Linked DNA regions of Homo sapiens: regions 2, 3 and 4 are each linked to region 1. The links come from fine-mapping of genetic effects on gene expression. A gene starts in region 1. Each other region holds a variant in brackets. All regions are shown on one strand. Distances are between the middles of the regions. Region 1 holds the start of GALNT11 (polypeptide N-acetylgalactosaminyltransferase 11). Region 2 has its middle 20 kb from the start of GALNTL5. Region 3 overlaps GALNT11 (polypeptide N-acetylgalactosaminyltransferase 11). Region 4 has its middle 250 kb from the start of ACTR3B.

Region 1 (7,793 bases):
CGAGTGCCACGCTTGATTGTATTCTTGGCCCATATATTATTTATACCTTTCCTGCCTCTAGAAAGTCATTTAAAAATTAATCATAATAAACCCATGAGTCTACTAAAATTATGATAAAATGCAAAACAGGCCAGGCGCGGTGGCTCACGTCTGTAATCCCAGCACTTTGGGAGGCTGAGGCGGGTGGATCACGAGATCAGGAGTTTGAGATCAGCCTGGCCAACATGGTGAAACCCGGTCTCTACTAAAAATACAAAAAAATTAGCTGGGCATGGTGGCGCACGCCTGTAATCCTAGCTACTCAGGAGGCTGAGGCAGGAGAATTGCTTGAACCTGGGAGGCAGAGGTTGCAGTGAGCTGAGATTGCACCACTGCACTCTAGCCTGGGCGACGGAGTGAGACTCCGTCAGGAAAAAAAAAAAAAAAGCAAAACAGAACCCGGCTCAGTGGCACGTGCCTGTAATCCCAGCTATTTGGGAGGCACAAGAATCGCTTGAACATGGGAGGTGGAGGTTGCAGTGAGCCGAGACCAAGACCAAGATCACACCACTGCACTCCAGCCTGGGTGACAGAGACTGTCTCAAAAAACAAACAAACAAAAAGCAAAATAGAAATCTTGTAGCTGAAAAAATAAAAGAGAATTATAGTAGTATAAATATGGAGTATCTTCTTAAAGTAACAGTTTTTTTCTAGTTGAAATTTGAGAATATATATATGTTATATATAATTATTATATGTAATATATAAATGATATATATGTAACATTAAAAAGTATATTTTTTTTCTGGTAAGCATAAAGAATGGATGCTGTAAATATCAGCTTTCCCAAAAGCAAAAGACAGGAGTGTTCTCTTTTGTTAAAAGCCGTGGGCCTAATATTAAGTCTTAGTTTTGTAATGTAATTTAGTTTAGGTACTAGATAACACAGATAAGTCCTAGAAATTGTTCAGCATGTCCCTTGGACAGTATCTTCTTAAATATTGCTTCAGTTGACCCTAAAATAGAAAAGAAATCAGAATCAATATCCAAATATTTGGTGTGATTAAAGGGAAATTGATACTTGCCTATAGATGGCAATTTTTTGTTTTTGTGTGGAAATTTAAAAATCTGATTTGTATTTTGAAGCTAGTTGAAAAGTATCTGGTAACCTGCTTAGGGTTTCTTACAAAACAGTTTTTGGTATGATGGAATGCTCAAACAAGTCTGAAATTAAGCCCAGGAGTTCTGTAACTAAAACATCCTTCTAGGAATTTATCCCAAGACACACCTGTATGAAACAACAACTAAGAAGAGCTGACATTTGCTGAGCTTTTACTACGTTTCATACTCTGTTATAAGTAGTCTGCATGGATTATCTCCTTTCATTCATACAACAACTTTATGAGTTCTACTGCTATCCTCATTTCATAGATGAGAAAACGATGGTTAGAATGTGCCCAGGTTAACGTTGCCCTATTTGGCTAATAAAAATACAGGATGCCTGGTTAAACTTGAATTTCAAATAGACAATAACATTTTACTGTACATATGGCTACATTCTGAATGTGTCTTCCATAATTCATGTTGAAACAACTGACAAAGCAACAGCACTACAGTTTGAATACCTTTTATCCCCACCAAAATTCATGTTGAGGCTTGGACCCCAGGGTAACAGTGTTGAGACAGAGTAGGACCTTTAAGAGGCATTTGAGCCATGAGGGACCAGCCCCCCATGAAAAGATTAACGCAGTCACTGAGAGTTCCCAGTCTCTTGAGACTGGATTAGGTACCTTGAGAGCGGGTTGTTAATAAGTAACATTGCCCCTTTAGCCAGTGCGCGCTTCCTCTTCCGATTCTCTGCCACGTTATGATGTAGCACAAAGCCCTCACCAGCAGCCTACCAGATACGGCTGCTGGATCTTGTACTTCCCAGCCTCCAGGAGAGTGGGAAAACAAATTTGTTTTTAAACTACCTAGTCTCAGGTATTTTATTATGGCAGCACAGATGAAGACAAGCCTCTCACATATTGCACAGGATATACTTAAACCACAAAATTATTCTTAATCTGGAATTCAAATTTCAGGCCATCCTGTATTTCATCTGGCAACTGTATCCAAGGACAAACAATAACACGGCCCTTACATGATCCTAATCAGCGTGGCCTCAAAGATTGTGTTTAACCAGAATGATACGCTGAAAAGAGCATTTTAGTGTCATTCTGTATGATAGTGAAAAATTGGAGCTAACCCAAATCCTCAATTACGAGAATAATGGTTAAGTAATTATTGCACATTAATCAGGTAGAATAGTATTTAAAGTAATAAACAGATGCATCTCATACTCATCAGGTTGGCAAATATTTAAATATCTGATACTATCAAGGGTCAGGAGAAGATGAAACAATGGAAATTTACATGCCCTGATTAATCCTAGAGCATGATTTCAAATGTTAATTTGTGTATAAATCACCTGGAAATCTTGGTAAAAATGCAGATTTTAATTAAGTAGGTGGAGCACAAGACTCCCCATTTCTAACACACTCCAGGTGACGTTGGTGTCGCTTGTTGCTGGACCACCATTTGAGTAGTGAGGCCCTAAAGGTCTGGTCTTCAAACTCTTTTGCTTGAGTATATACTAAAATAATAAGGTTTAAATACAAGAACTTAGTATCCCCTTATACATATTTAAGGTGATATTTAACATTTTTCATTACTAGTTTAGGTAGTTGGAAGGATTACTTTCTGGAAACATATTTATGTATTTAAATAAACTTGTAATACACTTTTAAATATACCTAGTAGACTTTGCCCTAGTTTGCCTGCCACTGCTGTGAATAGTTTCTGAGGGGGATCCCAGCAGGATTGATCCCCAATGACGCTTATTTGATATTATACTATGTATATTTTACATGAGCTGCAACCATTGAAGGAAACTGGGCAAAGATACCTGTGTGCTGTCTGCACTGCCCTTGCAAGAGAAACCAGTACCTGAAATATCTGTCAATCTCCAATCAAGACACAAGCATGGTAGAAGGAGTCAAAAGCATTCAACTTGGCACCCAGCAGCAGTTCTCTTTGGCTGAGGGAAGTGGCCACAAGACTCAGCTGGGGGCCATCAGCGGCCTACACACCCAACAACTGGAGAAATGAGTCCTCAGTCCTTAAGGGGAAACCTGGGTGGTACAACATGGCATCCCCTACACCCTGACAACCCCATGGGGTATCTGTGGAAGAGGGGCTGGGGAATGTGGTTAGCTCAGTTCAGCTCAAGAAGGCCACTACTTTGGTTCAGGTGGTGCTCTTTAATTTATAGTAGCTGTAGAAGTTCCTCCATTGCTACGCGTGTACCCCATCAGACTTTAATTGTGAAGCAATGAGTTCTTTAAAAAAGTTCAAAAATATTCTTAACCAAGTGGGATTTATTTCAGAAATGCAAAGAAGATTAGTATTAAGATATTCTTCAATATAACTTGGCATTATTGGCCAAAGATGAATGCCCACACCATTTTTCTTAAAAATTGCCAATTCCCCTTTTATGGTATTTGTATACATTGCACTATTATCACCAAGGTATGAGTGTTTTTTTCACCACTTCTCTCTTTACACCTTAATCTACATTTTCTTCTATCACAAGTGGCGTTTAACTTCTTTTAATATGTTTAAGGGCATTTGTCTTTTTTTTTTTTTTTCACTTATGGGGTCTCGCTGTATTGCCCAGGCTGGAGGGCAGTGGCTATTCACAGGCGCGATCCCGCTACCGATCAGCACAGGAGTTTTGCCCTGCCCGGTTTCCGAGCTGGGCCAGTTCCCCACTCCTTGGGGAACCTGGTGGTCCCTGCTCCCGGGAGGTCACCACACCGATGCGGAACACAGATGCGTGTCGCCGCGCAATGGGCACAGCGCATACAGCGCAGAGCTCCCGGGCTCAAGCGCTGCTCCCGCCTCAGCCTCCGGAGTAGCCGGGGCCACAGGCAGGGCATTTGTCATTAATGGGGTCTTTTGAGACCGCGGGTGACAGACAACAGGAGCCAGGCCACGCGCGGCGCCTCTGCGCGAACGCTAGGGAGGACTCAGCGCGCGGCGGCCGGTGACGTCAGGGCAGCGAGAGGTTTCGTCACCGCGGCGCGGGGGCGGGGCCGCCTGTCACGCGGCGCCGGCGGACGCGCGGCGCTGGGCGGAGGCAGCGGCTCGGGGACTGGGCGAGGGCCCTGGGCCTGAGGAGGCGCGGCCGCCACTGCGCCCAGCGCCTGCGCGACGCCTGGCTGCTGGGCCCCGGGGCAGTTCAGCCCGCGCCGCTCCTGCGGGTCGGACTGGGGCTGTGGCGGGAGAGAAGATGCCGCAGCCCGAGTCCCAGAAGGCGGCGATCCTGGGCTGCGGGCAAGGCGGTGAGTACCCTCTAGGCGGCGGCCTCCCGGCGTCCCTCAGCACCTCGAGAGCTGCGGCGGCGGCGGCGCGCGGGGCCTGGGCAGGCTGGGGGCGGCGGCGGGGCAGCGCCTGGCTCCCCGCGGGTCCTGGGCTCCCGCACGCCCCCTGGGCGAGGCTCGTGTCTCCGGGAGACGCCGCTGCCCCCGCGCCTCCCCCAGCGTCTCCTGAGGCTTGTTCGCGGGCGTGGGGGCGAGGACCAGGGCGCTGGCCTCGTTTTCGCGTATTTAGGACGGAGGCACACCTGATCCTGCAGCCTCCCCCAGCATTTCCTAAAATGAAGTCCAGATCAGTATTGTCCACTTTTTAAAATTAAAAGTGCCCAGAAATAGAATAGTTCACACATACACAAAACTAGGGAGAATAGTGTGGAAGGAAATTTAATCTCGGGACCCCAAATCACTAAGCCAAAGTCAAGCTGGGAGCTGCGTCAGGCAAACCTGCCCCTAAGTTTTGTTCCTAAGACAGCTGCAAAGATAAAAAGCCACACAGCTCCCTCACCCTTTGGCCAGGAGGAAATTCGCTGTGGACCTCCACATCTTTACCCTGAAACAGTTGTGTGGAATTGCACCCTGGCAGTGTAAATTGACAGCTTGTCTTCGCAGGTGAGGAACAGGGACAGAACTCAAGTCATCCTTCTGCTCACCTGAGACAGATGCATGTCTGACGGCTTCCTCTGCCCTGTATTTATGTAAAAATGCAGATTCACTGAGCCAGACTAAGGCACAAGTGGCTATTCCTCTGCCTGCCCCATGGCGTAAATTGTGTGTTCAGTAAAAGGCAGAGCAGAGGCTCAAAAGAATGTAGCCGTTTGTCTCTCATCTTACCCATGACCTGGAAGCCGCCACTTTGAGTTGTCCCACCTTTCCTGCCCGAACTAGTCTATACCTGTATTTGATTGAAGACTCATGTTCCCCTACAATGTATAAAACTAGGCTGTGCCCCCACCACCTTGGGTACATGCTCTCAGGATCTCTTGAGGGCAGTGTCATGGGCCATAGACACTCATTTCGCTCAGAATAAATCTCTTTAAAAATTTTTTTATTAGCCGGGTGCGGTGGCTCACGCCTGTAATCCCAGCACTTTGGAAGGCCAAGGCGAGCGGATCACGAGGTCAGGAGATCAAGACCATCCTGGCTAACACGGTGAAATCCCGTCTCTACTAAAAATACAAAAAATAAGCCGGGCGTGGTGGCAGGCGCCTGTAATCCCAGCTACTTGGGAGGCTGAGGCAGGAGAATGGCGTGAATCGAGGAGGCAGAGCTTGCAGTGAGCCGAGATCACGCCACTGCACTCCATCCTGGGTGACAGAGCGAGACTCCATCTCAAAAAAATTTATTTTTAATTTTTGTGGGTACATAGTAGGCATATGTATTTATAGGTACATGAGATATTTGATATGGCATAGAATGCATAATCACATCAGGATAAGCAGGGTATCCATCTTCTCAAGCATTTATCCTTTGTTAGTGCTACAAACAACCTGCAAGGCTCTTGTATTGGTTTGAACCCCGATGACGCACCAACAACCCCCACGACATGAGGCGGTGTGGAGCAACATGCTGTTTTAATAAGCGCCTGGGTGCAGACGGGTTTATGCCTAAATGGCATCAGCCCCAAGTGAGGAATGGGTTTTATAATAGCATCAGCCCCAAGTGAGGAAGGGGTTTTATAGTCCTCTGTAAGCAGGAAGTGTCCCAGTCTGACGTGGCTGCTGCGTAAATGTGTCCGGAATTGGTTCCTTCCAGTGGATTCTTGGTCTCGCTGACTTCAAGAATGAAGCCACGGACTGTCGCGGTGAGTGTTACAGTTCTTAAAGATGGTATGTCGAGAGTTTGTTCCTTCTGATGTTCAGATGTGTCCAGAGTTTCTTCCTTCTGGTGGGTTCGTGGTCTTGCTGACTTCAGGGATGAAGCCGCAGACCTTTGCAGTGAGTGTTACAGCTCTTAAAGGTGGCACGTCTGGAGTTGTTTTTTCCTCCCAGTGGGTTCATGAGCTCACTGACTTCAGGAGTCAACCTGCAGACCTTCGCAGTGAGTGTTACAGGTCTTAAAGGTGGCATGTCGAGAGTTGTTTGTTCCTCGCAGTAGGTTTGTGGTCTCACTGACTTCAGGAGTGAAGCCACAGACCTTCACAGTCAGTGTTACAGCTCATAAAGTTAGTGCAGACCCAAAGAGTGAGCAGCAGCAAGATTTATTGCAAAGAATGAAAGAGCAAAGCTTCCACAGCATGGAAGGGGACCCGAGCAGGTTGCCGCTGCTGGCTCCAGTGGCCTGCTTTTATTCCCTTATTTGGCCCCACCCACATCCTGCTGATTGGTCCATTTTACAGAGAGCTGATTAGTCCATTTTAGAGTGCTGATTGCTCTGTTTTACAGAGTGCTGATTGGTCTGTTTTACAGAGTGCTAATTGGTCGGTTTTTACAGAGTGCTGATTGGTGCGTTTACAAACCTTTAGCTAGACACAGAGCGCTGATTGGTGCATTTACAATCCTTTAGCTAGACAGAAAAGTTCTCCAAGTCTGCTACCCAGTTAGCTAGTCACAGAGCACTGATTGGTGCATTTACAATCCTTTAGCTAGACTGAAAAGTTCTCCAAGTCCCCTACCCGATTAGCTAGACACAGAGCACTGATTGGTGTGTTTACAAACCTTTAGCTAGACACAGAGCCCTGATTGGTGCATTTACAATCCTTTAGACAGAGTAGTTCTCCAAGTCCCCACCCGACCCAGAAGCACAGCCAGCTTCACCTCTCAATCCCCCCCCTCTAAACAGGACACCCCAACTGCTGTTGGGAATTTGGCCAATGACTGCTGTAGCTACTTCCTGCTGGATAGGGGTGAAGAAGGGGCCCTGCAATTGTAGTGTCCTCCAGAGGGGAACTCTTTAGGCCAGTGAAAGGGCCAGCAGGTTGGTCCAGGGGTCCTGGTAGAAGTTTAGTTGAGCTCATTTGGAGTTCCATTTGTAAGACCATCTGTAGCTTGATGGTCTCAATTCTAGAGGAAACAAATTTGAAAAGGAGGTTAAAAATACAGGGCCCGAAGGCAAGTAATAGCAAGATGGCTGCCACAGGACCTAGAAAGGGGAGAAGCCATGTTGTCCAACTCCAGAGGTTGGTGTAAGAGTTTGAAAGGCGTCTGATTTCAGAAGCCTTTTCCTATAAATGTTGGGTGGCATCTCATACTATCCCTGACTGGTTAGTGTAAAAACAACACTCTTCCCCTAAGAAGGTGCAGAGTCCTCCTTTCTCAGCAGTGAGGAGGTCTAGGCCTCGGTGGTTTTGGAGAGTCATTGCTGCCAAAGAGTCTATTTGGAATTGTAGTTACTATCCTTACTGGATAGATTTTGTTATTTCTTGCAAACTCTCTTGAGAAATCCTTTGAGAGTGTGGTA
Region 2 (7,793 bases), 89 kb before region 1:
CAGAGGGGTGGTGCCTGCTGTTTTCTAAGACTCACTTCTGGTTTCTGGTTGATTAGTTCTTTAGGAGAAGGCTCCCAACCCTCAATAGGAAGCCCAGTCTCCAAAGGTGGCCAGAACACGGTCCCCTCTCTGTGGGCATTAGCCTGGATAAAAGCCAGCTCTGAGGTCATATTTATTATATGATTGTGTAATAAAAGCTCTTTACTGGTGAATTGGCCGCTGGCAGCATTTTCCTGAGAATTCGAGGGAATCAAGTGTACAGAATAACAAGAAAAACAGCGCCTTAGGAAGCGTCCCAAAGGAATGGAGGGAGCACCCGCCATAGGTGCCAGGGACACCCGTGGGTCGCGCCTGTTTGCCTGCACTCTCAACTCCCTTCCTCTAGCTGCTGGGTGTTACTTACTCTGCCAACAATTTGTTACATTGTGTTTTTTAAAACACTGTTCAGGCCGGGTGCGGTGGCTCACGCCTGTAATCCCAGCACTTTGGGAGGCAGAGACGGGCGGATCACAAGGTCAAGAGATCGAGACCATCCTGGCTAACATGGTGAAACCCCGTCTCTACTAAAAATATAAAAATTAGCCGGGCGTGGTGGCGGGCGCCTGTAATCCCAGCTACTCGGGAGGCTGAGGCAGGAGAATGGCGTGAACCCGGGAGGCGGAGGTTCCACTGAGCCAAGATCGCGCCACTGCACTCCAGCCTGGCGACAGAGCGAGACTCCGTCTCAAACAAAACAAAACAAGAAAACACAACACGGTTCAGATTGTCACTGCGCCCTGTGATGTGTCCTCTTTGCCGTAAGGAGTTGTTGTGTAGGTTTGGGAACAAGGGGTAGGGGCATCGCCTCTCCTGCCAGAGGGCGGTAGGACTGTCCGATGACACCTGGTTTCCATAGCACTCCCGACAAGCCCTAGGAGGCTGTTCTCCTTACACATAATTATTCTAGATCTCCCTCTTGTGGACCATCTATGAAATAAAAGACACCAGTCTTTTTTTTTTTTTTTAACAGAGGCTTGCTCTGTTGCCCAGGCTGGAGTGCAGTGGTGTGATCTCGGCTCACTGCAGCCTCCGCTTCCTGGGTTCAAGTGATTCTCCGGCCTCAGCCTCCTGAGTAGCTGGGATTACAGGCGCCCACTACCACACCCAGCTGATTTTTGTATTTTTAGTAGAGACAGGGTTTCACCATGTTGGTCAGGCTGGTCTCAAACTCCTGACTCCACCTGCCTCGGCCTCCCAAAGTGCTGGGATTACAGGTGTGAACCACGGCCCCCCCGCCCCCCCGCCAAAACCAATCATATTTAATAGATACAATGAAGAATGTTATAGGTTATAAGGAATTAATTTCTGTGAGTACTATTTCAACATGTAAGACCATTAGTTTTTTTGTTATGAAATATTACAGACTTTTTAAATGTATATAGAGAATAATATAAAAATACCCATGCACCCACAAACCAGCTTTATCAGATCTTAACATTTTGCCCCACATTTACTTCAGATCCTTTAAAAAGGTAAAATAGATACAGTTGAGGGTCCCTAAATATATCCTCTCCCTAAAGTAATCATGGTTCTGAATTTATCTGTATTACTCCCATACATATGTTTATACTTCTCTACATGTATGTGTGCCAATACAATGCACACTGCTGTTTTATATGTTTGAAATTTTATAAGAAGTTACTGTCACACTGCATGTATTATTCTGCAATCTGTTTTTCTCCCACAATATTATACTTTTGAAGTTTTTCCTTGTGTTTCTGTTTCATTCATTTTCCTCTTCTGTATGCTATTGGTTGTATAAATATCACAACATATTTACCAGTTCTCTTATTCTGGGACATTTAGGTTATTTCCATTTTTCCTCATAACAAACAATGCTGTGGTGAACACACTTGGCCTTGCCTCCTTGTCTGTATATGGGAACTTTTCTAGAATATCCTAAAAGGGGAGTGCTGGCTCATTATACTGGGCTTCTTCAGCTTTACTGCTCATAGAGGATGGTACTACGTTACCTTCCGACCGTCAGCAGAGCTCTTTCCTTTCCTGTCATCTGTCCTCCCAGTGGGCAGCCAGGTGGAAGGAGCAGTAGCCACCATTAATCGAGCCTTCACCATGTGCCAAGCACCAGGTTACACGAATTGCCTGAATTTTCTTGTTTTAAAATGACAACAATCTTATGGGGGCAGCATTAGCAAGCCTGGTTTACAGGAAATCAGAGAAGTCCCGGACGCTGCCCAAGGCCACACAGATAATGAACTGCAGAGCGGAAGTGAAACTGATGCAGCCTCACCTGTCTGATCCCGAGCTGCTATTTGACCACTGGGCTATAAAGATGGTGAAAGACTTACCTGTAGAATTCTGGGATGGCGGAGGACACATCTTCCTAGTGAAGTCTCTAAGCCAGTTTGGTGAGAGCTGAGAACGAAGATCAGAAGAAAGAGGCTGGGTGCGGTGGCTCATGCCTGTAATCCCGGCACTTTGGGAGGCTGAGGCAGGCAGATCACCTGAGGTCAGGAGTTCGAGACCAGCCTGGCCAACATGGCAAAACTCTGTCTCTACTAAAAATACAAAAATTAGCTGGGCATGGTGGCACATGCCTGTAATCCCGCGACTTGGGATGCTGAGGCATGAGAATCACTTGAACCCAGGATGCAGAGGTTGCAGTGAGCGAAGATCGCACCACAGCACTCCAGCCTGGGCAACAGAGTAAAACTCCATCTCAAAATAAATAAGTAGATAAAAATAGTTCGAAGAAAGAAGGAATAAGCCATTTAAATGTTTTAATTATGAAAGTCATTATTATACGTTCAAAAGAGTATATTTAATGTTAATGTATAAATAAGGAACAATAATAAAATGAACAGATGGCAAGAAAGGAGTGAGAGAAATGGAAATTAAAGGTATCTAGATACCTAAGAAAAATAGACTTCAGTGTGAGAAAATAGCAGTGGAGGATCTGACAGCATGCATCCGTTTTCCTTGCAATTACTCAGGCTCAGCGAGTGTTTTTCGACAGTGCAGGAGTCTAAAGCTGCTTTGCCGTGTGCTCAGAACAGCTGACCTAAATCTGGCAGGACAGAGGAGTGGGGACCATCACATCAATGAGAAAAGGTGGAGTGTGCACCTGCCTGGAGACAAAGCAGAAATGGAAATAAGGGCCAGGTGGAAGACAAGAAGAGGGAAAAGGAAGTGTATTCTCCAGCTGGTCTCTCTGCTCAGCCCTGCAGGAGCTGGGAATTCCTCCTGAGCTCCCTGGGGAGCTGTCTGTTTTGCCCTGGTTTGACCAGAGCCTGACCTGAGCACTTTGCTTTTATTTCTCCCTGTTGTGTGTGTGTGTGTGTGTGTGTGTGTGTGTGTGTGTGTGTGTGTGTTTGTTTGTTTTTGAGATGGAGTCTCGCTCTGTCGCCCAGGCTGGAGTTCAGTGACATGATCTCGGCTCACTGCAACTTCTGCTTCC[C/T]GGGTTCAAGCAATTCTCGTGCCTCAGCCTCCCAAGTAGCTGGATTACAGGCATGTGCCACCACGTCCAGCTAATTTTTGTATTTTTAGTAGAGATGGGGTTTTGCCATGTTGACCAGGCTGGTCTCGAACTCCTGACCTCAAGTGATCCACCCGCCTCAGCCTCCCAAAATGCTGGGATTACAGGCATGAGCTACCGGCCCCAGCCTCTCTCCTTTTATTTTTAAGGAACTAAGTAATGCAAAACTCAACGGGCCTAGTATGCCATCTGGTAGTGAACGTCTAGTTGAATTAAAGATGAAAAGTGCTAGGGTGTTTGTATTGTTTCGACTAAGACACAGAGGTATAAGTTGTATTTTAGAGTTGTTCATGTTTACTTTACTTGAAAACGAAATGACTTCCAAAATAGAGGAGTCAAAACAAACCAGAAGTGAAAGTTAGCAAGTATTACAGGAAGTGGAAAGGAAACGAATGTGTTGCTATGGAAGTGAAACTGCTTTTTAAACAGCGCATCAAGAGCAGAGTGGGTAAAGCAGGTAGTTTTCTTGGCATGAGTAAAGGATATAGGTCATCTTATGTGCTTTTATACAATAAAAGTATAACTGATACCTTGATCTTAACTTTGTTAAACTGTGAAAAGAGAAAGAACTTGGTGATGTTAAGATACCTCGATACCTTTAGCTTCATCAAAAATGGGTCACGTGCCTTAACCTTGACTTACTCATTTTTCCTACCTTCACGCCTATCATTTCCCCACTTAGAATGCCTTTATGCTACTCAGATTTCCCATCAGAATTTCAACCATCCTATTAAGGACTTTGAAAACCTGACTTAATTGTTTTTTGTTTTTTGGGGTTTTTTTTGAGACAGTCTCACTCTGTCACCCAGGCTGGAGGGCAGTGGTGTGATCTCAGCTCACTGCAACTTCTGCTTCCCAGGTTCAAGTGATTCTCCTGCCTCAGCCTCCTAAGTAACTGGAACTACAGACATGTGCCACCAAGCTCAGCTTATTTTTGTATTTTTAGTAGAGACGGGGTTTCGCCATGTTGGCTAGGCTGGTCTCGAACTCCTGACCTCAAGTGGTCCGCCCGCCTCAGCCTCGCAAAGTGCTGGGATTATAGGCATGAGCCACTGCGCCTGGCCCTGATTTAAATTTTTTATGGAAGTATAAAAATCCATGAAATGCTAAGTCAAACTTGCTCAACTAGGAATTAAGATACAACACAAAACCAAGGACAGACACACAGACCAGGGGAACAGGAGAGGGAGCCCAGAGAGAGACTATATTACATGGGAATCATTACATGATAAAGACAGCCCAGGAATCAGTGGGGAAAGGACGAGTTACTTGTGGATATTTAGAAGTCATTTCAGTGTCTGCAGGGGTAAAAAACCAACATCACATACATAGGACTATTCAAAATGAAGCCAATACCGAATATGAACAGTAAAATGATAAGTTAACAGAATATGGTGATGACACACTTCCTTGCGATCCAAGGGTGGGGAAGGACCTCTTAAAATTTCAAAACACAAGCTGTAAGCAAAAAAAAAAAGGAAGATGATTTTTAGTACATCAGAATGAAAAATTTCTGGTCAACTAGTGGCCCACTGACAAAGTTAATTCAGGCTTTTATTCAACATGCTTGGCTTTATGGCACTTCCCAGATGTTGCATTTCTTACAAATAGAAGGTTTGTGGCAGCCCTGCTTTGAGCAAGTCTGTTGGTGTCATTTTTCCAACAGCACATGCTCAGTTTATGTCTCTGTGTCATATTTTGGTAATTCTTGCAGTATCTAAAACTTTTTCATTATTATATCATTGTGATGATCTGTGATCAGTGGTCTTTGATGTTACTACTGTAGTTGTTTTGGGGGTCCCATATAAGACAGTGAACTTAATTGATAAATGTTGTATGTGTTCTAATTGGTCCACCAGCTGGCCATTCCTCTGTCTGTCTCCCTCATCTTGTGCATCCCTGTTCCCTGGGGATTGAAATTAGGACAATTAATAACCCTGCAATGGCCTCTAAGTGTTCAAGTGAAAAGGAGAGTCACAGGCCTCTGACTTTAAATCAAAAGGTAGAAGTAATTAAGCTAAGTGAGGAAGGCATGTCGAAAGCTGAGATAGGCCCCAAGCTAGGCATCTTGTGCCAAACAGTTAACCAAATTGTGAGTGCAAAGAAAATGTTCTTGGCCAGGCACGGTGGCTCACGCCTGTAATCCCAGCATTTTGGGAGGCTGAGGCGGGCGGCTTACTTGAGGTCAGGAGTTCAAGACCAGCCTGGCCAACATGATGAAACCCCATCTCTACTAAAAATACAAAAATTAGCCGGGCGTGGTGGTGTGCATGGTGTGCACCTGTAATCCCAGCTACTTGGGAGGCTGAGGCAGAAGAATCACTTGAACCTGGCAGGTGGAGGCCGCAGTGAACTAAGATCATGCCACTGCACTACAGCCTGGGTAACAGAGCAAGACTCCATCTCAAAAAAAAAGTACTTAAAGGAAATTAAAACTGCTACTCCAGGGAACACACAAATGATAAGAAAGTGAGACTGCCTTATTGCTGATACAGAGAAAGTTTGAGTGGTCTGGATAGAAGATCAAAGCAGCCACAGCATTCTCTTAGGCCAAAGCCGAATCCAGAGAAAGGTCCTAACTCTCTTCCACTCTGAAGGCTGAGAGAGGTGAGGAAGCTGCAGAAGGAAGTTTGAAGCTTTTGAACCTCATTGGTTCATGAGATTTAAAGAGCGAAGCCAGCTCCATAAAAAAGTGTAAGATGAAGCAACAAGTGTTGATGGAGAAGCTGCAACAAGTTTTCCAGAAGATCTAGTTAATTAAGATCATTGATGAAGACAGGAGCACTAAACAACAAATTTTCAATGTAGACTAAACAGTCTTCTATTGGAAGAAGATGCCATCTAAGACTTTTCATAGCTAGAGAGAAGACATCAATGTCTGGCTTCAAAGCTTCAAAGGATAGGCTGACTCTCTTGCTAGGGGCTGATGCAGCTGGTGTCTTTAAGCTGAAGCCAGTGCTCACTTGCCATTCTGAAAATCTTAGCGTCCTTAAGAATTATGCTGAATCTATTCTGCCTGTGCTCTAGAAATGGAACAACAAAGCCTGAATGACTACACAACTGCTTACAGCATGGTTTACTGAATATTTTAAGCCCGCCGTTGAGACCTACTGCTCAGAAGAAAAGATTCCTTTCAAAATATTACTGCTCATTGACAATGCACTTGGTCACCTATAAGCTCTGAGGGAGATGTGCTAGGAGATAAATGTCGTGTCCCTGCCTGCTAACACGATCACCATTCTCTGCCCATGGATCAAGGACTAATTTCTACTTTCAAGTCTTATTATTTAAGAAATAGATTTAATAAGGCTATAACTGCCATAGATAGTGATTCCTCTGATGGATCTGGGCAAGGAAAATTGAAAACGTCTGGAAAGGATTCACCATTCTAAATGCCATTAGAAACATTCGTGATTCATGGGAGGAGATCAAAATAATAACATTAAGAGGAGTTTGGAAGAAGTTGATTCCAGTCTTCATGGATGACCTTGAGGGGTTGAAGACTTTAGTGGAGGAAGTCACTGCAGATGTGGTGGAAATGCAAGAGAAATAGAAGATGGGACTGAACTGCAATTTCATGATCAAACTTGAAAGGATGAGGAGTTGCTTCTTTTGGATGAGCAAAGAACGTGGTTTCTTGACATGGAAACTACTCTTGATGAAGAAGCTATGAACACTGTTAAAACGACAACAAAGCATTTAGAATATTACATAAGCTTAGCTGACAAAGCAGTGGCAAGGTCTGAAAGGACTGACTCCAATTTTCAAAGAAGTTCTACTCTGGGTAAAATTCTATCAAACAGCATCACATGCTACAGAAAAATCTTTTTGTGAAAGGAAGAGTCAGGGGAAGGGCAGGGGTAGAAAAAAATTAAAAAAGAAGAGTCGATGGATACAGCAAACTTCATTACTGTCTTATTTTAAGAAATTCCACAGCCACCCCAACCTTCAGGAACCACCACCCTGATCAGTCAGCAGCCACCAACATCGAGGCAAAACCCTCCACCAAAGGAAGATTACAACTCCATGAAGGCTCAGATAATTGTTACCATTGTTTAGCAATAAAGTATTTTTAATTAATACAGTACATTTTATACATAATGCTATTGCACACTAAATGGACTACAGTATAGAAACATAACTTTTATATGCACTGGGAAACCACAAAAATGTGTGACTCACTTTATTGCAATATTTGCCTTATTGCAGTAATCTGGACTGAACCCACAACATCTCTGAGGTATCCCTGTAGACAGAG
Region 3 (7,793 bases), 69 kb after region 1:
TATAGCTGGAGACTGAAATAGAATTAAATCATAAGGGAAGTGGGGAGGGCTGAGTGCCCGGACTTTGCCTGTCATGAGACTGAAGACATAGGGGTAGATGCAGCTGAGGAGTCAGGGTTGTGGTTGGAGAGGGAGTTTTTGTTGTTGTTGTTGTTGTTTTTTTCATGTGGAGTCTCACTCTGTCGCCCAAGCTGGAATGCAGTGGTGCGATCTCGGCTCACTGCAACCTCTGCTCCCGGGTTCAAGCAATTTCTCCTGCCTCAGCCACCCAAGTAGCTGGGATTACAGGCGCCCGCCACCACACCTGGCTAATTTATATATATATTTATTTTATTATTATTATTATTTTTGTGTGTGAGTCGGAGTCTCGCATTGTCACCCCGGCTAGATTGCAATGGCGCGATCTCGGCTCACTGCAACCTCCCCCTCCCGGGTTCAAGCGATTCTCCTGCCTCAGCCTCCCGAGTAGCTGGAATTACAGGTGTGCGCCGCCACGTCCCGCTAATTTTTTGTATTTTTAGTAGAGACAGGGTTTCACCATGTTGGCCGGGCTGGTCTCAAACTCCTGACTTTGTGATCCGCCCACCTCGGCTTCCCAAAGTACTGGGATTACAGGCGTGAGCCACCGCGCCCGGCCCTAATTTTTTGTATTTTTAGTAGAGACGGGGTTTCACCATGTTGCCCAGGCTGGTCTCCAACTCCCAACCTCAGGTGATCTGCCCACTTTAGCCTTCCAAAGTCCTAGAATTAGAGGTGTGAGCCACCGCCCCCAGCCGGAGAGGAAAGTTTCAACTTAGACATGAAGAGGTCATCACATCAGTCCTGGATGATGATGAAATTGAGGGTGGGGCAAAGTTCCTTATGTGGAATTTAGGTAAAGGTGACAGCAGGAACACTAACCAAGACATTTGGAGGCAGGGTTGGGCATGGTCCAACATGATAGTGGGAATCAGGCTAAAGAAAACACGAGAAACGACATCAGTGTCCATCTTTCATAGCTGCTAATGGAGTAGCTCTTGGTTTCTTCAGGGTCTGTTTTGGATGGTTCCCTTTTGTGAGGGCCAAGCAGCCCATGGTGGAAGCGGGAAGGCCGGGAGTGGTTTGAGGAAAACAACCTGTAAGCGTGGACCTTGCTATATGGATGAAGAAGGGGTTGGCTCCCTAGGTGCCTGGTTCCTCGTGGATTCAGAGCAGCCTGTCCGGTTACACTCTTTAACTTCAGGATCTCATGGCCTGTGGAAGAAGCAGTGCTTTTGTTTTTGTTGTTTGTTTACTTGCTCTTTGTCTACCCTAAGCGAACATTTTAGGGAGTTATAATGTCTGTTTCCCCTAAATGTCACTGCTCTGTACATTTTTGTTGCAATATTTTTGTTACAAAGTTGCACATTGCAATTTTTTTTTGTCTTTTCATTTGCTCTCATGGGCTTCCTTACTTAGAGAACATTTTCTTCTACTTCAAGTATTTGTGTTTTTCTGTTTATGTCTTTAGTTTTAAAAGTACCTGCAGCTGACATAGCAGCGCTTTCACTGGCGCCTGATTTTCCTTTGTACTATTGTCATTTCCAGCCATGCCTCTGGTATTACTGTTGGTGGGAGTTTTTGTTTGGTTGGGTTTTTGTTTTGTTTTGGTATGTTACTGTTGTTTTGTTTTTTTACTTTTTAATTAACTTGTAGTAGAATACTTAATAGTTCTTGGTTGGCAGACAGTTAAGAAACTGAACTGTTTACCATCTTCTAGGCTTATGGCATAACCTTGTACAAGAGAACCTAATTTTTACAGTGGTGCTTTACTGATGCCAGTTTGCTTTGTCCTGATCTTTTGGGGACAATACCATTTTTAAGATTATTTTATGCTGTAGAAATAAGTAACTTAAAAGCAGTATCTCTGTGCAGTTTTCTTATGTATCTACATTGCTTATATGGTTTCTCTGCCATAAGTCTGTTTACTGAGATGATTTTATATGTGCATTGGGCTCCTTAGAATTCCTTAGGAAATTGTATTAGCCTCCATGAAGATCAGATATCAGAAAGCTTAGGAGAAATTGCCAGGCACGGTGGCCTCACGCCTGTAATCCCAGCACTTTGGGAGGCCAAGGCGGGCAGATCACCTGAGGTCAGGAGTTTGAGAGCAGCCTGGCCAACATGGTGAAACCCCATCTCTACTAAAAATACAAAAACTAGCCAGGTATGGTGGCACGCACCTGTAATCCCAGCTACTTGGGAGGCTGAGGCAGGAGAATCACTTGAACTCGGGAGGCAGAGGTTGCAGTGAGCCAAGATCCCACCACTTTACTCCAGCCTGGGTGACAGAGTGAGACTCTGTCTTAAAAAGGAAAAAAAAAAAAAAAGCTTAGGAAAAATTGCTGTTCAGTGCTACATTTAGTTCTTCTTGCCTTGTTTTATAGGTGAGGGAATATAATTACTTGAACTCTTTATTTGAAAATAACTTAGATTTAGAGTGCACACTAGGGCAGGCATAACCTTTGATTGGAAAGTAGAATTTTTTTTAAGTTGTTTATATTTATTTATTTTTATTGTTTTGAGACAGAGTCTTGCTCGGTTGCCCAGGCCAGAGTACAGTGGTGCAATCTTGGCTCACCACAACCTCCGCCTCCCGGGTTCAAGAGGTTCTGCAGCCTCAGCCTCCCAAGTAGCTGGGATTATTATAGGCGCCCACCACAACCCTCAGCTAATTTTTGTATTTTTGATAGACACAAGGTTTCACCAGGTTGGCCAGGCTGGTCTCGAACTTCTGACCTCAAATGATCCGCCCACCTCAGCCTCCCAAAGTGCTGGGATTACAATCATGAGCCACCACACCTGGCCAGAGTTGCTTAGAGTTGCTTATTTTTAATAATAGATTTTTAAGATCCTTGGATTAAAAAAAGAATCTTGCAGTTCTTTGGTTGGAAGAGACTTTAGTTGTCCTGTTATGATACATGTGGTACTTGTTATTTTCCTTGTGAAAATTATAACCTGATGAGAAAAATTACGCAACTGAAAGCAGTCCAGAACAAAGGTGAAGAAGTATCCATTAACATGGGCAAATGAATCAGTCAGCTATTTCACTGCCGTTGGTTCTCTGAGCATTAACCCACAGGCCTGAGGTTTTCATTGTTGAACCCTTTTTAAAAACTCAGTACTATCCATACATCTTCTTGTATTTGAATATCCGTTAACTGTACGCATAGTGGTCCTACTTGGTGGTTTGGAAAACAGTGATTCTGTATTTGGTGGATGGTTTAAAGTATACTGAAGTGTCTAACATATTTATTCTTCTTTTTTAGGAAATTGACAATGGCCCTTCAGCTATGCTAGGTCTATAATGGGAAGTGTCACAGTTCGGTATTTCTGTTATGGGTGCCTTTTTACATCTGCGACCTGGACAGTTTTGCTTTTTGTTTATTTCAACTTCAGTGAAGTGACTCAGCCACTTAAGAATGTGCC[C/T]GTCAAGGGGTCTGGGCCCCACGGACCATCTCCAAAAAAATTCTATCCCCGTTTCACTCGAGGCCCAAGTCGAGTGCTCGAGCCACAGTTCAAAGCAAACAAAATTGACGATGTGATAGACAGTCGTGTTGAAGATCCAGAAGAAGGCCACTTGAAATTCTCTTCTGAATTAGGTAAGTATATGATGTTTACCAGCATCCATATCAATGTATTTAATCACTGGAAGTTTGATTAATTAGTTAATTAGGAGATCAGAAATGCTGCATCATTTTTTCCCCACTGATTTATTTTGTTTGTGAACTACCTGAAGTTCTGTGGTTTCTGCAGACTCAGTGGGGAGTTATATTCTAATTTATCCAGTTCTGACTTCAGTATCTTATGAGAAAACAAACAAGGTCCAGGGAAGAAAAATTAAAAGGCTAGAAAGAAAATGGAACCTATGGGAGAAGGGGTTTGTTTTTTGTTTGTTTTTTTAAGAGATGGGGTCTCACCATATTGCCCAGGCTGTCCCCGAATTCTTGGGCTCAAGCTGCCCTCCCACCTCAACCTTGAGAGTAGCTGGGACTATAGGCATGCACCACTGTGCCCAGCCCTGGAAGAAGGTTTTAATTGCTAGAATTGTTAATAAGGGAAAGAAATGGTTGAAAGTTTCCTTGACTGTATTTAACTTATTTTTAAGGGTACATTTAATTAATACAGAACATAAAGTACTGAGTTTAAAAATAAGCTGGGGTTATTTATATCTAATATGATTTTCACTTAACAAGAATTACTAAGGTGCTAGAAAAAATATATGTATATATAATATAGTTTATGAAATCTTAGTTATAAAATAGCCCTTTTTTCCTCCTAAAAAATTATATTCTCTTCAACTTGGATGCAAGACTCTATTGTCTATGCCTTTGAATACTGCAATTTTAGAGTGTTGATTTTGACATTTTATTTTAAGGGATAAGTGAGCAATTTTTGTTATCATTAAAACTTAAAGAACTTGGATCTTGTCACAAAAACATCAAATAATAGGTAATTTAAGAGTAAAATACAAGAGATTTTTGAGAGATTGAGAGAGCCTTAGAATGTGAAAGAAATGTTAAAATAGAGTTTTCACTTGGTCATAGTTTCAAAGAAATAAAATCAGTTCTTAGGACTTAATGATTTTCTAATATAGGAAGTCAAAAGTATGTAAAATTTTATGAGGAAACAAGCTAATATCTACTTCAGTTTTCATTTAAAAATATTTTTAAATAGAGACGTGATCTCACCAACTTCAATTTTCATAAAGTACAATTTTCATAAATCTTTTTCAAATAGCCAGTGGACATTTTTAAAGCATTAATGGGAAAATGTCTAGCTCTTTTATTTATTTATAGTTACATTGGTAAAGCTTTTATCAAGAAGTAATACTGAGTTTACCATTTTGAATAGACTCTGTATTTGCTTTTGAAAGAAGTAGTGAGAGAATTGTAGATATTGAATAACAAACTCCAGCTGCCTAACTGAAAAACTAAATTCCTTATAGACTATCGTAAAGAATCCACAAAAAACCTATTAGAGGTAATAAATGAATTTGGCAGTTGCAGGTACTAGATCAACAGGCAAAAACCAGTTGCATTTTTATACTGTAGCAACAAGTGGCCTGAAAAATGCAGTTAAGAGATCAATTTCATTTACAATAGCATCAAAAGTCATAAAACACTTAAGAATAAATTTAGCCAAGGAGCTGCAAGATTTGTATGCTGAAAACTGTAAAACATTGCTGAAAGAAATCAAAGTAAACCTACACACATTGAAAGATATTCCAGGTTCATAGAATGGAATACTAAATACTGTTAAGATGTAGGTATCACCCAAAGCAATATGTAGATTCAGTGCAATCCCTATCAAAATGTCAGTGGTCTTTGTTGTAAAGAGGGAAAAGGTTATCCTAAAATTAATATGGAATTACAAGAGGCTCTGAATAGCCAAAACAGTCTGAAAAAGAACAAAGTTGTAAGACTCAGACTTTCCAATTTTAAAAATAAATTGGACTACATCAAAAACAAAAACTTTCGTACATCAAATAACATATCAAGAATGTGAAAAAAGGGCTGGACGCAGTGGCTGATGCCTGTAATCTCAGCACTTTGGGAGGCTGAGGTGGGTGGATCACCTGAGGTCAGGAATTTGCAACCAGCCTGACCAACGTGGCGAAACCCTATCTCTACTAAAATACAAAATTAGGTGGGCGTGGTGGCAGGTGCCTGTAATCCCAGCTACTCGGGAGGTTGAGGCAAGAGAATTGCTTGAACCTGGGAGGCGGAGGTTGCAGTGAGTCAAGATCGCGCCATTGTACTGTAGCCTGGGCGACAGAGCAAGACTCTGTCTCAAAAAAAAAAAAAAAAAAGTGAAAAAAGACAACCCACAGAATGGGAGAAAATATTTGTAAATCATATTTCTAATAAGGGTTCAGTATCCAGAATATATAAAGAATGCTTGTTTGTAATTTTATTTCATTTTGAGACAGGGCCTTGCTCTGTCACCTGCGGTGGAGGGCAGTGGCACAGTCATGACTCACTGCAGCCTCAATCTCCTTGGCTCGTTTGATCCTCCTGCCTCAGCCTCTCGAGTAGCTGGGGCTACAGGGGTGTACCACTATGCCCAGCTAATTTTTGTATATTTTGTAGAGACAAGGTTTCACCATGTTGCCCAAGCTGGTCTCAAACTCCTGGGCTCAAGCCATTCGCCTGCCTTTGCCTCCCAAGGTGCTGAGACTATAGGCATGAACCACTGTGCCTGGGCCCAAACAGTTCTTAAAACTCAGTAATAAAAAGACAAATGGCACAATTTTAAAATGGGCAAAGGATTTGATAGACATTTCTCCAAAGAAGATATGCAAATGGCCAACAAGCAGATGAAAAGATGCTTAATATAATTAGTGATTACAGAAATGAAAATCAAAACAATGAGATAGCCATCTCACACCCACTGGGAGGGCTATAATAATAAACTTAAAAAGGAGAGTAGCAAGCGACAGTGAGGATGTGGAGAAACTGGAGCCCTCACATGTTGCTGGTGGGAATGGAAAATAGTGCAGCCACTATAGACAGTTTGGCAGTTCCTCCATAAATTAAACGTAGAATTATCATATAACCCAGCAATACCACTCCAGGGTTTGTACTTGGAAGAATTGTCAACAGGTGCTCGAAAACTTGTACTCAATGTTCATTAGCAGCACTATTCTCAATAGACAGAAGGTGACAACATGTTATCCAAATATCCATCAACTGATGAAGGGATAAACTAAGTGTGGTCTATCCATACCATGGAATATTATTCAGACAGAGAAGGGAATGACGTTGTGATCATGCTACAACATGGATGAACCTTGAAAACATTATGCTTGTGAAAGAAGCCACACACAAAAGGTCACATGTTGTAGGGTTCCTTTATGTGAAATGTCTAGAATAGGCAGGTCCATGGAGACAGAAGGCAAATGAGTGGTTCCCAGGGACTGGGGAATGGGAGGAATGGGAATAACTGCTTTAATGGGTATAGGGTTTTCTTCTGCGGTGCTGACAATATTCTGCAGCTAGATAATCATGCTGGTCATACAACATTGAGAATGTACTAAATGTCACTAATGGTATGTTTTATGTTACGTGCATAATTATCACAGTTAAAAAATGAAAAACATCCACAATTTCTTACATAAAATAAATTTAATATAGAAGGAATTAGTATAAATAATGTAGTAGTTAAAAGTATGCAGATTTCTGAGTAGAGAATTACTGAACAAGCAGGGAAAGGAACCTATGAAAAGGTATATTTGAGAAAGATTATTGGCCAGGCATGGTGGCTCACACCTGTTATCCCAGCACTTTGGGAGGCTGAGGCTGGTAGATCGCTTGGGCTCAGAAGTTTAAGACCAGCTTAAGGTGGTATCTACTGAAAGTTTAAAAATTAGCTGAGTGTGGGGGCGCATGGCTGTAGTCCCAGCTACTTATGAGGATTGTTTGGGCCCAGGAGGCAGAGGCTACAGTGAGCCGAGATTGCACTACTGCACTCCAGCCTGGGGGACAGAGCAAGACCCTGTCTCAAAAAAAATAAATAAATAAATAAATAAATTTAAAATTAAAAACATTTTCTCATTTAATCTGAAATTAATTATAAAATTAATTGAAAAGGGTCCTCTGGCATGTTAATTCATTGAGGTTTGGCTACAATTTTGAGTAGGGGAATAAGAAAAGTAAGCTAAAACAATCTTTTCATATGGAATCTTTTCAAGAGACCTATAATAGAACATGATTCTTTCATGTTCTGATACTTGTTGAATTAAGGAGTATTTATTGAGAATCTTCTTTGTGCAA
Region 4 (7,793 bases), 980 kb after region 1:
ACTGCACCCAGCTAATTTTTGTATTTTTAGTAGAGACAGGGTTTCACCATGTTGGCCAGGCTGGTCTTGAACTCCTGACCTTAAGTGATCCAGCCACCTCGGCCTCCCAAAGTGCTGGGATCACAGGTGTGAGCCACTGTGCCCAGCCATGCCTCAAGAGCTTTACCCTAAAACAGTTGTGTGGAATTTCATCCTGGCAATGTGAGTTGACAGCTTATCCTCACAGGTGCCAAACAGGGACAGAACTCAGTCATCCCTCTGCTCACCTGAGACCAATGTGTGTCTGATGACTTCCTCTGCCCTGTATTCATGGAAAAATACAGATTCACTGAGCCAGACCAAGGCACAAGTGACTCTTCCTCTACCTTCTCTCACTTGTGAACTGCATATTCACTGAAAGGCTGATCAGAGACTCAGAAGAGTGCAACCGTTTGTCCCTTATCTATCTGTGATGTGAAAGTTCCCAGGCTTCGTGTTGTCCCGCCTTTCTGGACCTAACTAGTGTACAGCTTACACATATTGATTGATGTCTCTTTTCTTCCTAAAATGTTTAAAATCAAGCTGTGCCCTGCCCACCCTGGGCACATGTTGTCAGGACCTCTTGAGGCCGTGTGACGGGTACATCCTTAACTTTGGCAAAACAAACTTCTTGAGCTGATTGAAACCTGTCTCAGCTACTTTTCCGTTCACTCCTTCCTGCTGTGGGTCTACACAAGTGGTACTTTGGGTGTCCTCACAAAATACAACACTTTGTGTCTCTAAAACAGCGGTGCGCTTTTTCATCACTTACCTGTGTCTCTGCCATGTGGCTTCTAAGGAAGTGTTTTCAGTTGAAGGAACAGCTTTACTCCCGAGGAAGAGGGGGTGGATGACTGTGGACCATGTGCCTGTCTCCCTAGCAGTTCTTACCAGTCCCTCGGACCCGGTTGTAGATACAATTCACAGGACCCCAAGGAAAGAAATACAAGCAATAAGAATTTATTGAAAGACTTTTTAAGGCTCTAATGGAAGACAAACATTATTCAAAGATTTACTATTCTGGCCCTCAGCCAAAGGGCTGAAACTGAAAAGAAGGAATTTCAGGCATTTGCAGTAGGAATTTGGGGGCCAGAGTATCTTTCCTCGAAATCACCCCATTGCCTCTAACATCACCCCAAGGCGAGAGTCACAGCTTCAGTGCCGCATAGGAACAAAATAGTAATTACAACATGCCTTTCATTTGACTGGCTACCTCAGATTCATGTCCTACAAGCTGGGCTGGGCTGGTTATAACCAACGTTGCTGAGGTAGCTACTGCACAAATACCTGCCTTTCCCTCAGTGTCTGGAGCTTGGCCATCTAATATCTTTCTACAAGGCAATGAGTCTGGGGGCTTGAGGGAGCATACCCCAGAGCAAAACTTTCATGTCAGAGGGGACCAGGGTCCCAGAGACCCCCAGACTGTGCAGGTGCCCTCACAGAGACAGCTGGGGCCAATCTGGGCACTTAGCACAGGGCTTCCACTCCACAGGAAGACTACCCAAAGCTCAGGTGCCAGGGTGTAAATGTCTCCTGTTCTAGAGGCAGAACTCATTCCCTCACTTCTCATTGTCCCATGGGCCCAGCTAGAGGCAGCAGGGATTGCCCAGGACAGTCCTTAACCTTGCACTGTGGGTTTCCACCCATTTCAACAGACGCATTTCTGTTCAGCCAACTTTTATTGTGTGATGGTTGCGGAGGACATTTCATCCTTCCCAGAGACATATTTACAACGAGCAAACATTCTCTGGGAACTCAGGGTCTTCACCAATCTTCTAAGGCTCAGGGATCATGGGTGGGTCTGGCCCTATCTAGTTGTAGGGATCTGGGCCTACGATGTTCCACAAAGCTCCCCACCGTCATTTTGGTGTTTCCCCAGGACTGCCACAGGTCCTATTATAAGACAGTCGTGGGGAGAACATCACCAGGAGTGGTGGGGGAGCCAGCGGGAGCCACCCTCGATATCCCACCCATGGTGGCTTTTCCTCCTGTCCTTTGGTGAGTGTTGGCTGGTGTGATTCCCGGCACATGCTTGTGAGCCCTGAGGGACCCTGGCTCTACCACCCATCCTAACACCGAGGCCTGGCATGGATCCCCTTCACTTGCAGCATCCACGGCTCAGATGACTATTGAATATAGTCAGGTCCTAGATACTGACAAAGGGAGAGGAAGGTGCAAAACAACCCAAGATGAGAGTGGGGTGCTAGTGCTGTCGGGTGGAGGCGGAGGTGCCACTCATTTCAGGATCACAGGGGCCGCTTCCCTGCCCATTCATCCGTGTATTCATTCATTCACTCATTCAGCAAACGCTTGCTGTTTGAGGAACTGCTGTGTGCTAGGCATTGTGTAGAAGAGAAAATACAGGCCCAGAGAAATTGTGACTTGGATAAAGTAACTGAGCTGGGCTTGGCGACTTCGCTGTTGAGCTGGGTGTGCTCTGCTTGTCTCTCCAGATCCATTCTCCCTGCCTCCATTCTTACACACCGCTCTGCACCGTGTAAGGCTGGGCTCCGGACACATTCAGGCTCCTTTGTCCAGTGGCTTCGCGTTGTATTCCACCAACGAGAGGCACCGACAGGAGGTGGAAAGCAGGGAGGAGAGGCCAGGCTATGTACCGCCCTGGGACGTCTTTGCTGGGTTGCAGTATGGCAATGTTTGCCCTTCTCCACCTGATGTTTTGGGCTCCACCTTTTCTAACAGTTACAGCTCTCACTAGGTTCGGATAACCAAGCCCTCCCCTTCCATCTCAGGCTAAGGAATGCCCATGGCTTCCTAAAGATGTGGGCTCCAGGTTCACTCATCTTCCTTTGTTGATTTCCCTTAACCTGGCCAGCAACTTTGGGGGTACCCCTCCCATAAACCTTCTTCATTTGCTTTTATTCAAGCATGCTGTTTCCGTCAGCATCCTGACCGGTGCCATAATTGGTACTCAAAGTCCCCGCAGCAAGTAGAATCTCAAAACAGGACCCCGGGATTGTGCAGAGCAGGTTTGCTAATCACTAATCCCAAGGGAGGACTCCCAGACAGGGTAGAAAGCGAAGATCATCACCCTGCCAGTTTCCAGGAGTAGGAGTCCAATCGCTTCTGCCCATGCCATCTTGGGCTACAGATTTACCAACTGCCCAAGTCTGTGAAACAAAACACGCTCACACGAAACCAGCTATGTGAGGTGGGTATTCCTTAGAAATTGGCAGCCAGGGACAGAAGATGTCTCAGATCCATTGTGAGCCTGTCCCCCAAGGTTCAAGAAGGCTATCCCGGGGCTGATGGAGTCTCAACTGCGTGTGCCCCACTTAGACCACGGCCGAGGGACCCTGAAGAACAGCCCACCTGGGTAATGTAGTGCAGGGCTGGGCAAAGCTTTGAAGGACATCCTGCTCCCAGGGGAGGCAGGCACGGAGCCGGGGCTGTCCCGGGCAGCCTCTCCCTAACTCAAGATCTGATATTCTTTAGGAGGAACAGGACAAGGCCTGGCTGCTTCAGGCAGTTCCTCCCTGTCTCAGGATGTTACATCCCCAGCACATCTTACAGTTATTCTGAGAGCTACATGCTGGGAAAAAGGAGAGAAATGGGTCGGTTCGAGGCTACTTGGAGAACCATCCTGAGGGCCCCTGGGACTGTGTGCTCACATCTTGGATGAATGCACAGATGATTTTCCTCGTGGAGAGAAAATGGCTTTAAATAGAAGGTGAGACCTCAGCTGATCCCATGAGAAGGGTGACTTCAACTGGGGTGCTGTGTCCCAGGGCTTCCTAAGCCTGGGATTCTCAACGAGGAATCTGGGAAACAGGACGGAAAGCAACGGAGGAATAGAAAAAGATCTTGTTTCATT[G/T]ATTCTCAATGAGCCAAGTTTAGCAGTTCCACGAGGGCACCTGGTCAGAAAAGGAGAGCTCTGGTTCCATTTCTTCTAATAATTTACTCTGTGACCTTGGGAAATGTCCTCCATTCTAGTGCTCTGCATGATACATGAGTCTATGTGAATGCCAGTTATTTTTATTTTTATATTCCTCTCTCTCCTCTCTTTACTACTGCCTTACTTAGAAAGTAGCTTTTTCTCAATATTCCCAAAAACATATTTCAAAAGTTTTTTTTTTATGACTTATTGGAAATAATGCTATTAGAGAATGAGAAAGTACTGGAAATGCCGCTGGCTGGCTCCATGCAGATGCGTGGACTGGGCACTCTGGTGGTGACGGTTATACAGTCTGAGAAGCCAGCAGGGCTCTGAGCTCTATCCCCAGCCAAGTGACTTGCTGGCATTAGGAGACAGCTTTGCCAGCCCAGAGAGAAATGCAGCGGGGAAGAGGCTGTGTCCTGGTTGACTGCATGAAGTCTTTTTTTTAATTTGAGATAGGATCTCACTTTGTTGCCCAGGCTGGAGTGCAGTGGCATGATCATGGCTCACTGTAGCCTCAACCTCTGGGCTCAAGTGATCCTCCTGTTTCAGCCTCCTGAGTAGCTGGGACTACAGGTGCATGCCACCACGCCTGGCTAATTTTTGTTTTTGTTTTGTTTTGGTTTTGGTAGGTGGGGTTTCTACAAAAAAAAAAATGTTCACAATGTTGCCCAGGCTTGTCTCAAACAACTGGACTCAAGCTATCTGCCCACCTCGGCCTCCCAAAGTGTTGGGATTATAGGTGTGAGCCACTGCACCTAGCCTCATTAAGATTTTAATATGCGTAAGTTTATCTTTTTAAAAAACCCATACTGAGTATATAGGAAAAGAGACAACATATAAATAAGCTTTTTCACAATCAAATTAAATATTACTTAAATAAGCTGAGCTTTCCTAACTAAATGCTGCCACAGGTATGATTTTAAAATATTTTTCTTTTTCAGAATAGTTTTTTTTTTTTTTTTAAGAGACAGAGTCCTGCTATGTTGCTCAGGCTGGTCTTGAACTCCTGGATTCAATCAGTCCTCCCGCCTCAGCCTCCCCAAGTGCTTGGACTACAGCTGTAAACTCCTGTGCCCGGCTTGCACAGTCTTGATAACCTTCTGTGGCTGGCAGGTATCCAGTGCTTCCCAGAAGACCACTTGTGGGTCCGCAGGAAGAGGGGGTTTATTTCTGAAGGTCCAGTCTTAGCTTGTCCATAAAATCAGCCTCTTCACACTCATCACCCCAGGCTGCACTCTTCCCTCTTTAGTCATTATGGGGAGATGGTGATATGTGCCCTCCCCTGACTAGAGGCAGGGCTTCAGCTAAGCCTTGACCTGGGGTGCAGCAGATCGCCTGTGCAGGGGGTCTCCTCAGCCAATGATGACTTACTCCCTGGAAACTGCCCCAGTACACAGGAGACGCTCATGGTTTCTGAGCCTTCTTGTCCTCCCCATGCACTGACTTGTGGTCACTGACTGATTTGGGGACAGCATTGTTTCCATCTCAGGCCAATCACAGTTGTCCTCCTGGGAACGGGAATGGTGAGCGGTGGCCACGCAGACTGGAGCTGGGACCCTGGTGATTGTGCAGAGCGATGGGAGCTTGGCCAGGACTGTCTAGTTTCCGTCTTCCTGTGGTTTGGCTGTTCAGCCCTTCCCTCAAATTTGGGAGTTACTCAGTCCCTCGGAAATGCGTCCAGCTCGAGTTTGTGAGAGTCACTTTCTATTTCTTCCATTTTATTACTGGGGTGGTGGAGAGGAAGGCAGCATGCTTCTGATTGGCCTGCGAGACACCCCCTAGCGGGTCCTCATTCCCACCAGGGCCTGGTTCCCAGCGCCTCTTCATGCACATGCCGAACAGTGATAGAAGCTCTTGCACAACCCTCTGCCTTCGCTGCATTGAAACTGCCTTCACATCCTTCTGTTTCCTCTTGCCTGATCTCACCTCAGTGTCATGGTGCAGCTCAGCCTCCTCCTCTGTGAAGCCTTCTTTGTCCTCCTTCTTGGGTGCTCTCTTTCCAGTGCTATGGGATCAGTCAGGCCCAGCAGTGTGACATTCAATTGATCACCCAGAGTTTCTGGTGTGTTTCTGCTCCCTGGAGGCATGGACTCATTCTGACACTTCCTTTCTATCCCTCAGTGCTGAACGCAGAGTCACACACCTTTAGGTGCTCAATGGCACTTTACTCAGCAGAGATGGGAAGGAGCAAACATCTTGAGGAACAAGAAGACCCCAGTTCCTCATCAGGATAAAGACTGTATTTTCAGAGGAAGTCAGGCCAGAATGTGGCAGGCATCGAGTGTCAGGATGAGGAACTCGTCCCAGGTGTGAGTCCTCAAAATGCAAACACAGCCACTAATTGTAAGGAGCCTCCAAAGAGACAGTGATAGTTGATGGAAGGAAGCAGCATGGAGGAAAGGACAGTGGCATAGGAAGAGTGACCTATTCCATTGGGGTGGAAGGGTGCTGATCAGATTTAGTCAACAGTCATCGAGTTCCTCCCTTGTCCTAGAGACTGGTCTGAGTGTTTTCACACTACCTGGTTTAATTTACGCAAAACCCTGTGAGGTGCATAGTCCAGGCTCGGAGATAAGAGGATTGAAGCTCAGGATGCTGAGTGACTTGTCCATGGTCAGATGGTGATTAAGGGGCAGAGCTTGGGCAGGAAGCCAGGTGTGCCCCAGGTGTTCTGACTCCAGAGCATCTTCCCTCTGTAGCCTTTGGCTTTCCTTTTACGTGAGTCACTGCGGTCATCCTCTCAGCTGTGAGCTTCACCACTAGAGACTAGTTGCCAAAACTGTGCTGGACATGTATGTTTATTGCAGCACTATTTACGATAGCAAAGACTTCGAATCAACCCCAAATGCCCATCAATGATAGACTGGATAAAGGAAATGTGGCACATATACACCATGGAATACTATGCAGCCATAAAAAAGGATGAGTTCATGTCCTTTGCAGGGACATGGATGAAGCTGGAAACCATCATTCTCAGCAAACTAACACAGGAACAGAAAACCAAACACTGCATGTTCTCACTCGTAAGTGGGAGTTGAACAATGAGAAGACATGGACACAGGGAGGGGAACATCACACACTGGGGTCTGTTGCGGGGTGGGGGGCAAGGGGAGAGAGAGCATTAGGACAAATACCTAATGCATCCCGGGCTTAAAACCTAGATGAGAAGTTGATAGGTGCAGCAAACCACCATGGCACATGTGGTATACCTATGTAACAAACCTGCACATTCTGCACATGTATCCCAGAACTTAAAGTAAACAAACAAAACTGTGCTGGACACACCATCCTTTGGCACAATGTGGCCTAAAGGGACCTGCCTAGTCAGGTTTGTGCTGTGCCCTCTGCAGCTGGGCAGAATTAATTCCTCCACATCTCTTCAGGTTTCAGTTCTCACAGCCCTGTGCACCTGTTTTAATCGCTTGTACCGGAACTGTAATCTTCTACTTATTTGTATGATTATTGGGTGATGGTGGTCTCCCCGCTGCCCTGACACACACACACACACACACACACGTGCCCATGCACAATTGTGAGCTCCATTAGAACAGACAGCTGTGTGCTGCTGTTACCATCTCCATCTGTTTTCATTAGTTATGACCATTCCTGGCACATGGCAGGTACACAATTATTTGTAGGTGAGCAGAAGTGTGAATGAACAAGTGCTTGAATAGAAAATAAAGGAATGGATTGTGGATGTGACACATTTGGCCCAAACATTCAAATCCCTCATTATGGGTCTGAATAAATGCTGCGAGGAAGCTAGAGATTGCTCCAGGACTTCCCACCTCTTCTGTTCTGCCCTGGCCTCTGAAAACTCCCTGCCTCCGTCCTCTCCTCTCAGAATCTGCCTTCGGACCATGTTTTCCATCAGGAA

The links. PIP is the estimated chance that this variant, and not a neighbour inherited with it, causes the effect.
Region 2: its variant is fine-mapped to the expression of GALNT11 in whole blood (TOPMed, PIP above 0.99).
Region 3: its variant is fine-mapped to the expression of GALNT11 in whole blood (TOPMed, PIP above 0.99).
Region 4: its variant is fine-mapped to the expression of GALNT11 in hippocampus (GTEx, PIP above 0.99).

Annotation. Positions count from the first base shown.
Region 1 is chr7:152,021,521-152,029,313 of GRCh38, forward strand. GALNT11 (polypeptide N-acetylgalactosaminyltransferase 11) reads left to right here and starts at 4,154. Exons shown (of 12, transcript NM_022087.4): 1 at 4,154-4,364. RefSeq lists silencers at 2,844-3,138, 3,989-4,688.
Region 2 is chr7:151,932,494-151,940,286 of GRCh38, forward strand. No RefSeq gene overlaps it. Among named protein-coding and RNA genes, the nearest start is that of GALNTL5, 20 kb to the right of the region's middle. RefSeq lists enhancers at 811-910, 931-980. The variant C/T (reference allele first, on the strand shown) is at 3,458.
Region 3 is chr7:152,090,903-152,098,695 of GRCh38, forward strand. It overlaps GALNT11 (polypeptide N-acetylgalactosaminyltransferase 11), which reads left to right. Exons shown (of 12, transcript NM_022087.4): 2 at 3,288-3,620. The coding sequence starts at 3,326. Among named protein-coding and RNA genes, the nearest start is that of GALNT11, 69 kb to the left of the region's middle. The variant C/T (reference allele first, on the strand shown) is at 3,448.
Region 4 is chr7:153,005,131-153,012,923 of GRCh38, forward strand. No RefSeq gene overlaps it. Among named protein-coding and RNA genes, the nearest start is that of ACTR3B, 250 kb to the left of the region's middle. The variant G/T (reference allele first, on the strand shown) is at 3,851.